Homo sapiens: one gene and its partner. The protein of the gene in region 1 purifies or fractionates together with the protein of each later gene. This does not show direct contact. Each region holds a gene or a part of one and is shown in the gene's direction. Other genes may lie near its edges.

What was found. Proteins that work in one complex are often made in the same cells at the same time.
Region 2: the proteins of PABIR3 (region 1) and PIGR purify together in Homo sapiens (affinity purification with mass spectrometry; one large-scale study listed by BioGRID and IntAct). This does not show direct contact.

What each region holds. Positions count from the first base shown.
Region 1 is NC_000023.11:134,826,919-134,832,273, forward strand, and holds part of PABIR3 (PABIR family member 1), read left to right. Parts: intron 1-2,307; coding exon 2,308-2,364; intron 2,365-5,355.
Region 2 is NC_000001.11:206,932,002-206,936,859, reverse strand, and holds part of PIGR (polymeric immunoglobulin receptor precursor), read left to right. Parts: intron 1-1,041; coding exon 1,042-1,374; intron 1,375-2,113; coding exon 2,114-2,440; intron 2,441-3,693; coding exon 3,694-3,874; intron 3,875-4,282; coding exon 4,283-4,404; intron 4,405-4,858.

The sequences.
Region 1 (5,355 bases):
ACATTTATTTATCCAACACATACTTTATTTTATGTATGTATTTATTTATTTATTTATTTGGAGATGGTGTCTTGCTCTGTTCCCCAGGCTGGAGTGCAGTGGCACGATCTCAGCTCACTGTAAGCTCTGCCTCCCAGGTTCAAGTGATTCTTCTGCCTCAGCCTCCTGAGTAGCTGGGGTTACAGGCACCCGCCACCATGCCTGGCTAATTTTTGTATTTTTAGGAGAGACAGGGTTTCACTATGTTGGCCAGGCTGGTCTCAAACTCCTGACCTCAAGTGATCCACCCGCCTCCGCCTCCCCCTCCCGAAGTGCTGGGATTACAGGCATGAGCCACCACACATGGCCCAACACATACTTTTTGAACACTCATCTTCCCTCCACTCACTAACTCACTCCTCTTACTGCCTTTCATGGCCACACTCCATCTATTGGTTTCTACTGGGAACCTTAGCAACCTCTTTTTCAACCTTCTGGTCATTTCTCCAATCTACCTCCTTCTCTTCACTCTCCCTTTTTCATTTAGACCCTCACCATCTGTGACCTGGCCTGTGACCCTGCGTCTAGTCCCTCTTCCATCCACCATCAATGTGTTCTGCATGATGTTGCTAGGGTTACCTTTTTAAAGCAGATATGATCTTGTTTAAACAGCTTTGAGGTTTAAGAACTCAGAGGAATCTATGCTCTGGGTTTCCTATTGTGCTCAAAGGCTAAAGTCCAAAAACTACAATCTGGTTTTAGCCTAATTTCCCTAAATTTGTTTCCTGTTGTACCCTCGCAGGTACTAAGTTTCAGCCACCCTGAACCTTTCTGTTCCCTGAACATTCCTCTCTGCCTGAGTGTTTCCTCTCACTCCTTGAAATGTCCTCCCTCCTCTTCTCTATCTAATGAGTTGCTACTCCTCTATGAAGACTTCCTCAAGACCCACACAGAGTTCTCTGTCCTTTGAACTCTGTCCTTTGAACCCAAATCGTAACTCTGTTCTGCCATTTGGCTGTGACCTAGTTTCTGCTAACTAGACTTAGACTTTGACTTGCTCAAGGACAGGAAAATGTCTTATTTATCTTTCGATCTTCAGAGTCTAGCTCAGTGCTCTCTCTCTCTCTCTCTCTCTCTCTCTCTCTCTCTCTATATATATATATATATATATATGTATATTTGTAAAGGTGGGTGTTTGCCATCTTGCTTAGGCTGGTCTTGAACTCCTGGCCTCAAGTGATCCTCTCAAAGTGCCGGAATAATAGGCATGAGCCTCCCGTGCCTGGCCTCCAGGTCTTTTATTTTTCTTAAAAATCCCAAGTAGCTGGGATCAGAGGCACATGCCACCACGCATGGCTAATTTTTGTATTTTTAGTAGAGATGGGGTTTCACCATGTTGGCCAGGCTGGTCTTGAACTCCTGGCCTCAAGTGATCTGCCTGCCTTGGCCTCCCAAAGTGCTGGGAATACAGGCATGAGCTACCGCGCCCGGCCTCATTCAATATTTTGAATGTACAACTCAATGTGCTCTTAAGATAGAATTTGAAACTAAGATATGGTAAACACATTATCTGGCATTTTAAGAAATAACCACGGTACAGAAAGAGTTTACAGATGAATTCTGAAGGTAATTTTCAAGCCTCATTTTCACACTTAGCTTTAAATCCCTCCATTCTTTCATTCCCCTCTTGTGTGGGTCCTCATAAGCTTTGAGAAAAGACTGAAAAGGAAAAAGTAGCCCCGAAAAAGAGAAAGGACCTAGACAAGAAGTATCTTAGCAACCAAGAGTAAAATGTGCTAAATGACTTGAAAGTGATTACCTTAGAGTCATTTCATATTATGAAAGTTTGGTTTCCCAGCTAGATTCCAGGATATTTGATGTAGTTATTCTGTTTATGATTTTTGGGCAGTATGCTTGGCAAGCTAGCTACTGATTCAATGACTGTTTCAGCTTTTTGTTCTGGGTAATACCTCTACCTAAGCTTTAATGATGGGCTAAAACTGGCAAGAAAAATGAGGCAATTTTAAGATCTAGTGCCTTAGGAAAGAAAAGGTAGAGACAAACAAAATCCTCTATTGATGTTCTGCTCTGTATTTATTATGATAACAGTTATTTTGTTCTGTTTTGGAAAGTGTTGATTTTTGATTAGTATAATTTTCAGTCAAGATCCAGTTGGATCTTTTTTTAACTTTGAACCTAACTGATACTGTTGCTGGCATGCATAAGACACTAAATAAATATTTTAGGTAATTCAACATTGACTTAATGTTGAGATGTAATTAATCACAAACATTAAAGCAAGCTTGACTTCTATATTTTAAATTTCAGTTGTTGCCACCTCCTCCCTTTCATGGTTCCATCAGCCGCCTTCATCAAATCAAACAGGTAAGAAGACTTTCCAAACTGACAGCTGTTCATTTAAAAAAGTAAATTTTATTTTTCTTTGTGAAAATACCTATGTTTCAGTAATTCTAAGTGAGGTCACGTGTAATATTAAGTTTTTATTTCTAGGAATGATTTCTTCAAAAAAAAAACAAAACTAAGAAGCACTTTTTTTGGCTTATTAGCTATTTTAATTAATTAATAATTTCTAGAAATACTGCATACTCTTATACCTTGAGTCTAGCTTCTTTCTTCCAGGGATCTGAAAGTGGAATGCTACACATAAAAATTAATTTTCAGCTTCATAATAACTGTAGTTATTATTTTTTTAACCCTCAGATGAGTTTTTTTGACAGATAAAATGGCCTTCATGCTATTGTTTTGTTCTTAGTGATCTGAGTTCAGGGACACATTGTACCTCACTGGTTTATATTTTGTGCCCATGTGCACGCATGCACGTCTCTGTGTTTGTGTGTTTGTGTTTGTGTATGTGGTTGGGAGGGTGTATGTGGGTGGGTGGGTGTGCACTCATGTGCACATGCATGCTTAATAGCACAAGCATAATACAGAATTCAACCTTTTAATTATCCAAGGATTAGCCACAGAACTCAAAAGATCAAATCACCACTACCCCACAGGTGGTATTTTTTTCTTTGACCCAGCTACAAGCAGACATTTTTTCCCCCAAGAGAGGCTTAACTTATTATTCACTTAGTACTAACAGGTACTTTACATTTGTGGTCTCATTTTATCTTACAACAACTTTATAAGGTCAGAAACTAAAAAGGGGAGAAATTTAGCAATTTACCCAATCTCCAGAGTTGGTGAATGTCAGAGCCAAGATTTGGCCCCAGATTACTGGATTATTTTCCAGCTCCCCTTTCCCTGTTTCAGTGCACAAAGCCCATAATACCATCTTGTAATCCTAGTTATTAGTCCTCCAACTCTTGCTTCTTTTCCCTCTCTCCCTTTCACCCCTGTGGCATGGCTTCCCTAAGGTCAGCTTATCCACTAGCAAGAAAGTATGGTAAAAATGGTTTTTTTCCTTTTTTTTTTTTTTTTTTTTTTTTTGAGACAGAGTTTCGCTCTGTTGCCCAGACTGGAGTGCAGTGGCTCCATCTTGGTTCACTGCAACCTCCACCTCCCAGGTTCAAGCGATTCTCCTGCCTAAGCCTCCCAAGTAGCTGGGATTACAGACGCCTGCCACCACGCCCGGCTAATTTTTGTATTTTTAGTAGAGACGGGGTTTCATCATGTTGTCCAGGCTGGTCTTGAACTCCTGACCTCAGGTGATCTGCCTACCTCGGCCTCCCAAATTGCAGGGATTACAGGCGTGAGCCACCGTGCCAGGCTGTTTTTTTTACTTTTTAGTGGGTAAAACTTGCTTTTACTCCTGTCTTTGTATGTAGCTATTTTAGAAATTCTTAAGGAATGAAACAAGTTCAAAGGAGTAAAGTGACCTCGTGTTTATCTGTGCAATATGTTTCTTTGCTTCTCCTAAATTAAACCAAATATTTGAAAATGGGTTATGTGTTGCTATTTGCTGGTGAAGCTTGATATAAATCCTAATTTACACTGGTTAGGAATATAAGTTTAATGCAGTTTATTTCCATAGTAACATAATATGTATTATAAATATTTAAAAATGAAATATAAGTAGAAAATGAATGAGATGGGAAAAGAGAAAAACATTAATTTTCAATCTGGATACTGATTGAATGGAAAATTAAGACTTATTTTCAGCAGTTTAATGGTCTGATAGATATCTTAAGTTGCATATTTCTTTTTTTTTTTTCTTTGTTTTTGAGATGGAGTCTCACTCTGTCACCCAGGCGGGAGTGCAGTGGTGCTGTCTCAGCTCACTACAACCTCCACCTCCTGGGTTCAAGGGATTCTCCTGCCTCAGCCTCCCAAGTAGCTGAGATCACAGGTGCGTGCCACCACACCCGGCTAATTTTTTTGTATTTTTAGTAGAGATAGGGTTTCACCATGTTGGTCAGGCTGGTTTCGAACTCCTGACCTCAAGTGATCTGCTCACCTCAGCCTCCCAAAGTGCTGGGATTACAGGGGTGAGCCACTGTGCCTGGCATAAGTTGCATATTTCTTTACATGCATTCTTTGACTGACTTCTTTGTCCCTATTAAACTTAACCTTTTAAGTGCAAAACAGAAATGTCTGGTTCTCTCCCCATTACCTTCTGAACTTTCACTTTAACAACATTAATAAGGGCATTGATTTTTCAAAATGGGGGGAATAATATTGGCTATCTCATAGAATCGTTTTGAGGATGAAAAGAATTACAACTGACCCTTCAACAACCTGGGTTTTTAAAAAGTAATTAATTTAATTTTTACAGGTGCCATGGGGTACATGAGATACTTTGATATAGGTATGCAACATGTAATAATCACATCAGGGTAAATGGAGTATCCATCCCTTCAAGCATTTATCCTTTGTGTTACAAACAATTCAATTATCCTTTTAGTTATTTTTAAATGTATAATTAAATTATTATTGACTATAGTCACCCTGTTGTGCTAGCAAATACTGAGTCTTATTTGTTCTTTCTAACTATATTTTTGTACCCATTAACCATCCCACTTCCTCGCCACCCCTCATTTACCCTTCCCAGCCTCTGGTAACCATCCTTCTAATCTCTATCTCCATGAGTTCAAGTGTTTTAATTTTTACCTCCCACAAATAAGCAAGAACATGAGGCTGGGCGCAGTGGCTCACGCCTGTATTCCCGGCACTTTGGGAGGCTGAGGTGGGCAGATCACTTGAGGTCAGGAGTTCGAGACCAGTCTGGCCAACATGGTGAAACCCCGTCTCTACCAAAAATACAAAAATTAGCCGTGCGTGGTGGGTGCCTGTAATCTCAGCTACTCAGGAGGCTGAGGCTAAAGAATCACTTGAACCTGGGAGGCGGAGGTTGCAGTGAGCCGAGATCGCGCCACTGCACTCCAGCCTGGGTGACAGAGAGAGACTCCGTCT
Region 2 (4,858 bases), on another chromosome or scaffold:
GTCCCTGCTTAACAAGCAAGAGGTGAGTAAAGCTCTTGATTGAGGCAGGACTTATAGACTGTGTTTCAGGGCTGTGGCAGGCTCTGCAGGGGTCCTCTGTCCCCTCCCCTGGCCCCTGAACAAGATGGGTGCCTCATCCCTCACATTCAGATGGAAAAAGGATTGGCTTATCTTGGTCTCAATGCGTTCCCAGGAGTGCCCCAGCCTCTAAATGTTTCACTGTCACATTTCGTAGGGTTATTTGTGAATTTCAGCACCATCTGGCCCACTCAGCCCTACTCCAGTGAGCCATCAGCATGGTGAAAGAATTAAATCCCAGCTCCTTCTCATCCCAGAGCACCCTGCATAGAGTTGCCCTCGTGAGAAGCAGCAAACCAGTACTTGCAGTTCCAAGTATCTGTGCTTGTGACTTTTTTTTTTTAAAGGGGCTTATATTCTCTGCATGCCATGTCCACATCCAGCTCTGGGTTTTCACCAGAATCCCCTGCATCTTTGGTCACCTGCTTCTCTCTGGATCTCAGCTTTAGCTGCCTGGAGAATGGCTATCGTCTTTGAGATGCCCCTTGGGGCCCCAACAATTAAGCTCACCTTTGCTACATACTTTATAGTTTACATCATACCATCCTAAATATATTTTCTTGATTTGGGCATAATCCATTGGGCCACTTTTGTGGAATACACTTGTTAGTGTACTAAATAGACAAAAACCTACACAGAGGGAGACTTTGTAAGAAGCCAAAGAAGAGCTGATATCCTCTCCTTCAACTCCTTCCATTCTCTGCTCAGAATAAGATGGGGGAAAAGAACAACATGTGCAGGCTGATGGGGAGACTCCAAGCCCTTGGAGTCTGGCCCTGATGGCTCCAGCTGCAGGCTCTGTGACATTAGGAAAGCTCCTTTTCATTTTCTGAAGAGGGTAAGGTGATGCGTGTAAACTTCACTCCCCATCCTGGCTGAGACCCCGGGAAGAAGGCTTCTCAGGCCACGCAAGGCTCTTCCTGCGTGGCCATCCTCCCATCCCATCTCTGTCTGTGCTTCCAGAGTCCACGATTCCCCGCAGCCCCACTGTGGTGAAGGGGGTGGCAGGAGGCTCTGTGGCCGTGCTCTGCCCCTACAACCGTAAGGAAAGCAAAAGCATCAAGTACTGGTGTCTCTGGGAAGGGGCCCAGAATGGCCGCTGCCCCCTGCTGGTGGACAGCGAGGGGTGGGTTAAGGCCCAGTACGAGGGCCGCCTCTCCCTGCTGGAGGAGCCAGGCAACGGCACCTTCACTGTCATCCTCAACCAGCTCACCAGCCGGGACGCCGGCTTCTACTGGTGTCTGACCAACGGCGATACTCTCTGGAGGACCACCGTGGAGATCAAGATTATCGAAGGTAGGAGTTGACAGGGAGGGAGAAAGCTCTAAAACCTCTCCAGCCAGCAGCAGCATCCCCAACCACTCTTCCTCCTTTTTCACCCGCCTCCACCCTGATGGGCCAGACCTCAGGAGGGAGCCCACCTATCCAGAGGTCACATTTTCATGCCTATAACACGCACCTTACACTCTGAATTACCATACATGGTACCTCCTACTACCAAGAACATGGGCTTCTTTCGCAGTGTGCAGGCATCAGCTGAAGTCAAGGATTGCAGATACCTCTTTGTATTGAGTCTAGAAGAGAAGGAAGAGTGAGGAAAGCAAACTGAAGTCCATGTGTGAAGATCTATGGTCTATGGTAGACTCTGGATTGATCATGGTGCTCATCAATAATAATTATTACCTAGGCACACAATTACATTTCTTCTGTAGTCAGAATAACATACTTATTTCTAATGCTATCCAAAGAGGATATGTAGACTGAACATGGTGGTGCATGCCTGTAATCTCAGCACCTTGGGAGGCCAAGACAGGAAGATTGCTTGAGCCCAGGAGATGGAGGCTGCAGTGAGCTATGATCGCACCACTACCCTCCAGCCTGGGTGACAGAGAGAGACCTTGTCTCAAAAACAAAAACAAAAATATATATATATATGTATATGACATGTGGACAAAGATTCCCACCAGAGTCACTTCCCTGCAGCATCTCCAAGTACCAACTTCTGTGTTTATTTCTACCTCCCTCCCTCCTCCAGGAGAACCAAACCTCAAGGTACCAGGGAATGTCACGGCTGTGCTGGGAGAGACTCTCAAGGTCCCCTGTCACTTTCCATGCAAATTCTCCTCGTACGAGAAATACTGGTGCAAGTGGAATAACACGGGCTGCCAGGCCCTGCCCAGCCAAGACGAAGGCCCCAGCAAGGCCTTCGTGAACTGTGACGAGAACAGCCGGCTTGTCTCCCTGACCCTGAACCTGGTGACCAGGGCTGATGAGGGCTGGTACTGGTGTGGAGTGAAGCAGGGCCACTTCTATGGAGAGACTGCAGCCGTCTATGTGGCAGTTGAAGAGAGGAAGGCAGCGGGTGAGTCTCCAAGGACAGGGCCTGCACCCCTCAGACCCAGAGGCAGGACTTCCTGAAGGCCCCTGCCTGAGAGCTTCTCAATCAGTGCTGGCCCCTATGTTTGGCTGTAAGAGGCTGAAAGTGGAGAGTGGGAAGGGAGGGGACATTTAGGTCCTATATAGCCTCGTTGAGCCCTTCAAAAGGGACATCTCAAATAAACATACCAACTAAGTAAAAATAGTGGGTTTGCTATTTAACCTCGGCATTAAGACAACTCCCAGCTGAATGTGGTGGCTCACACCTGTAATCCCAGCACTTTGGGAGGCCGAGGTAGGCAGATCACTTGAGGCCAGGAGTTCAACACCAGCCTGGCTGACATGGAGAAAACTCGTCTCTACTAAAAATACAAAAATTAGCTGGGCATGGTGGTGTAATCCCAGCTATTTGGGTGGCTGAGGCATGAGAATTGCTTGAACCCAAGAGGCAGGGGTTGCAGTGAACTGAGATCGTGCCACCACACTCTAGCCTAGGCAACAGAGCTAGATTCCATTTCAAAAAAAAAAAAAAGACAAGTCCCATAGTTGCCACTTCAACCCAGATTGAAGTCTCTTCTATATCTGGAAATATTCTTCTCTGTATAGAAGAATAATATGCATACATCACTGTCATATGCAATATGTTCATCCCCCTTCCCCCTGCCAAAGCTCGCCCTCGAAAGAGGGCCAGATACCTTCATTTACAAGGTCTGATCAGGAAAATTAGGAAACATCTAGTAAATTTGCATTTCAAGTCCCCTTTTAAAATTTCACATGAAATGTTTTAGCCCTAATAAGGGTATTTGTAGTCCCTCAAGAAATCCTATTGGGTCTGGACCCTGCGGATGGGACTCACTGAGGGGCCCATCGCCAGGCTACCTCCAGGGGGCAGCACTATCATACCCAGCTGGGCAGTCAGGAAGCCTGGGGCAGCGTCTCAGAGCCTTGAAAATCTCCCGGGCATAAGTGATGGGTCAGCCTTTATGCACAGCTGGTCTATGACACGAAGCCTTGAAGGTCCCCACTATACTTTTGGTAGTAATGGGGCAGAGATCATCTGTGACAGCTGAAGAAGGCCATCACAGCTGTTTCTAATGTCATCCTGGGTCCTACCCCAACAGCCTTGAGATCGAACCCTGACCCTGTGATTCCTCATGAAGTCTCCCCCAGACTCCTTCACCTCGAGGAGTAAGAGCATAGAGAAAAATCACAACCCAGGCCCACTCTTCCCTGCTGCAGGGTCCCGCGATGTCAGCCTAGCGAAGGCAGACGCTGCTCCTGATGAGAAGGTGCTAGACTCTGGTTTTCGGGAGATTGAGAACAAAGCCATTCAGGATCCCAGGCTTTTTGCAGAGGAAAAGGCGGTGGCAGATACAAGAGATCAAGCCGATGGGAGCAGAGCATCTGTGGATTCCGGCAGGTAAGGAAGGATTCAAGGCTCCCCACTCGGAGAACACCCCAGAGCCGAGCACCTGAGGCTGGGCCACCAGGTCCAAGGAGGAAAGCCCATCTGTCTCTTGAGCACTGGGGCAGCCCTTACTACCTCTGCTTATATGTGGGAGGGTCCTATGGTACCCTCTGCCCTTCTCCCATGGCTGGGGAGGTGTTTACAATTCAGTTCAATCTTCCAGGCCTAGGATGCAACAAGGCCCAGTGCGTGCCTTTGCCAGTCTGGGAAGGCTTCTTAGAAGAACAGAGCTAGGGAGCTGCATCAGCAGGGTGGGGTGGATAAACCTGGGAGGAAAAAGGACTAAGCCAACCTTGCCAGCACATCGTCGGGCCCCCAGATCTCCCTTCCAGGGATGAACTAACTTAAGCCTTCTTCCAGCTCTGAGGAACAAGGTGGAAGCTCCAGAGCGCTGGTCTCCACCCTGGTGCCCCTGGGCCTGGTGCTGGCAGTGGGAGCCGTGGCTGTGGGGGTGGCCAGAGCCCGGCACAGGAAGAACGTCGGTGAGTCCCTGGGATACTCCCTGCCTCCCACCTCCAACCCGAGCCCTCAGTCCTGAATCATCCACCCATAGAGGAAGCTGCTGTGTCTCTTCTTTTTCATGAGCTAAAACAAAGGATCCCGAGAAAGCAGGATGGGGAAAGATAAACCCACACATACTCGAAACTGAAATTCAGAGCTGCTGTCCAAATACTAACACTGGAAAATCATCTCCAATTACCCAGGATCTAGGTTCAGAGACAGGGCTGCCAGGAAGAGGAGATTGGGTTTCAGGAGACCCTGGGCTTGGACTAATTGGATAACTAATGAGCTGTGTGACATTGAGCCATCCTTATGCCATGCCTCAGTTTCCTCATGGCTCAAGTCAAGGATGATAATCAGGACCTCACGGGGCTGATGTGAGGACCAAAGGAGATGCTGTGCATTGAAAGGTCCCAGAGTGACAAAGATCAGGGA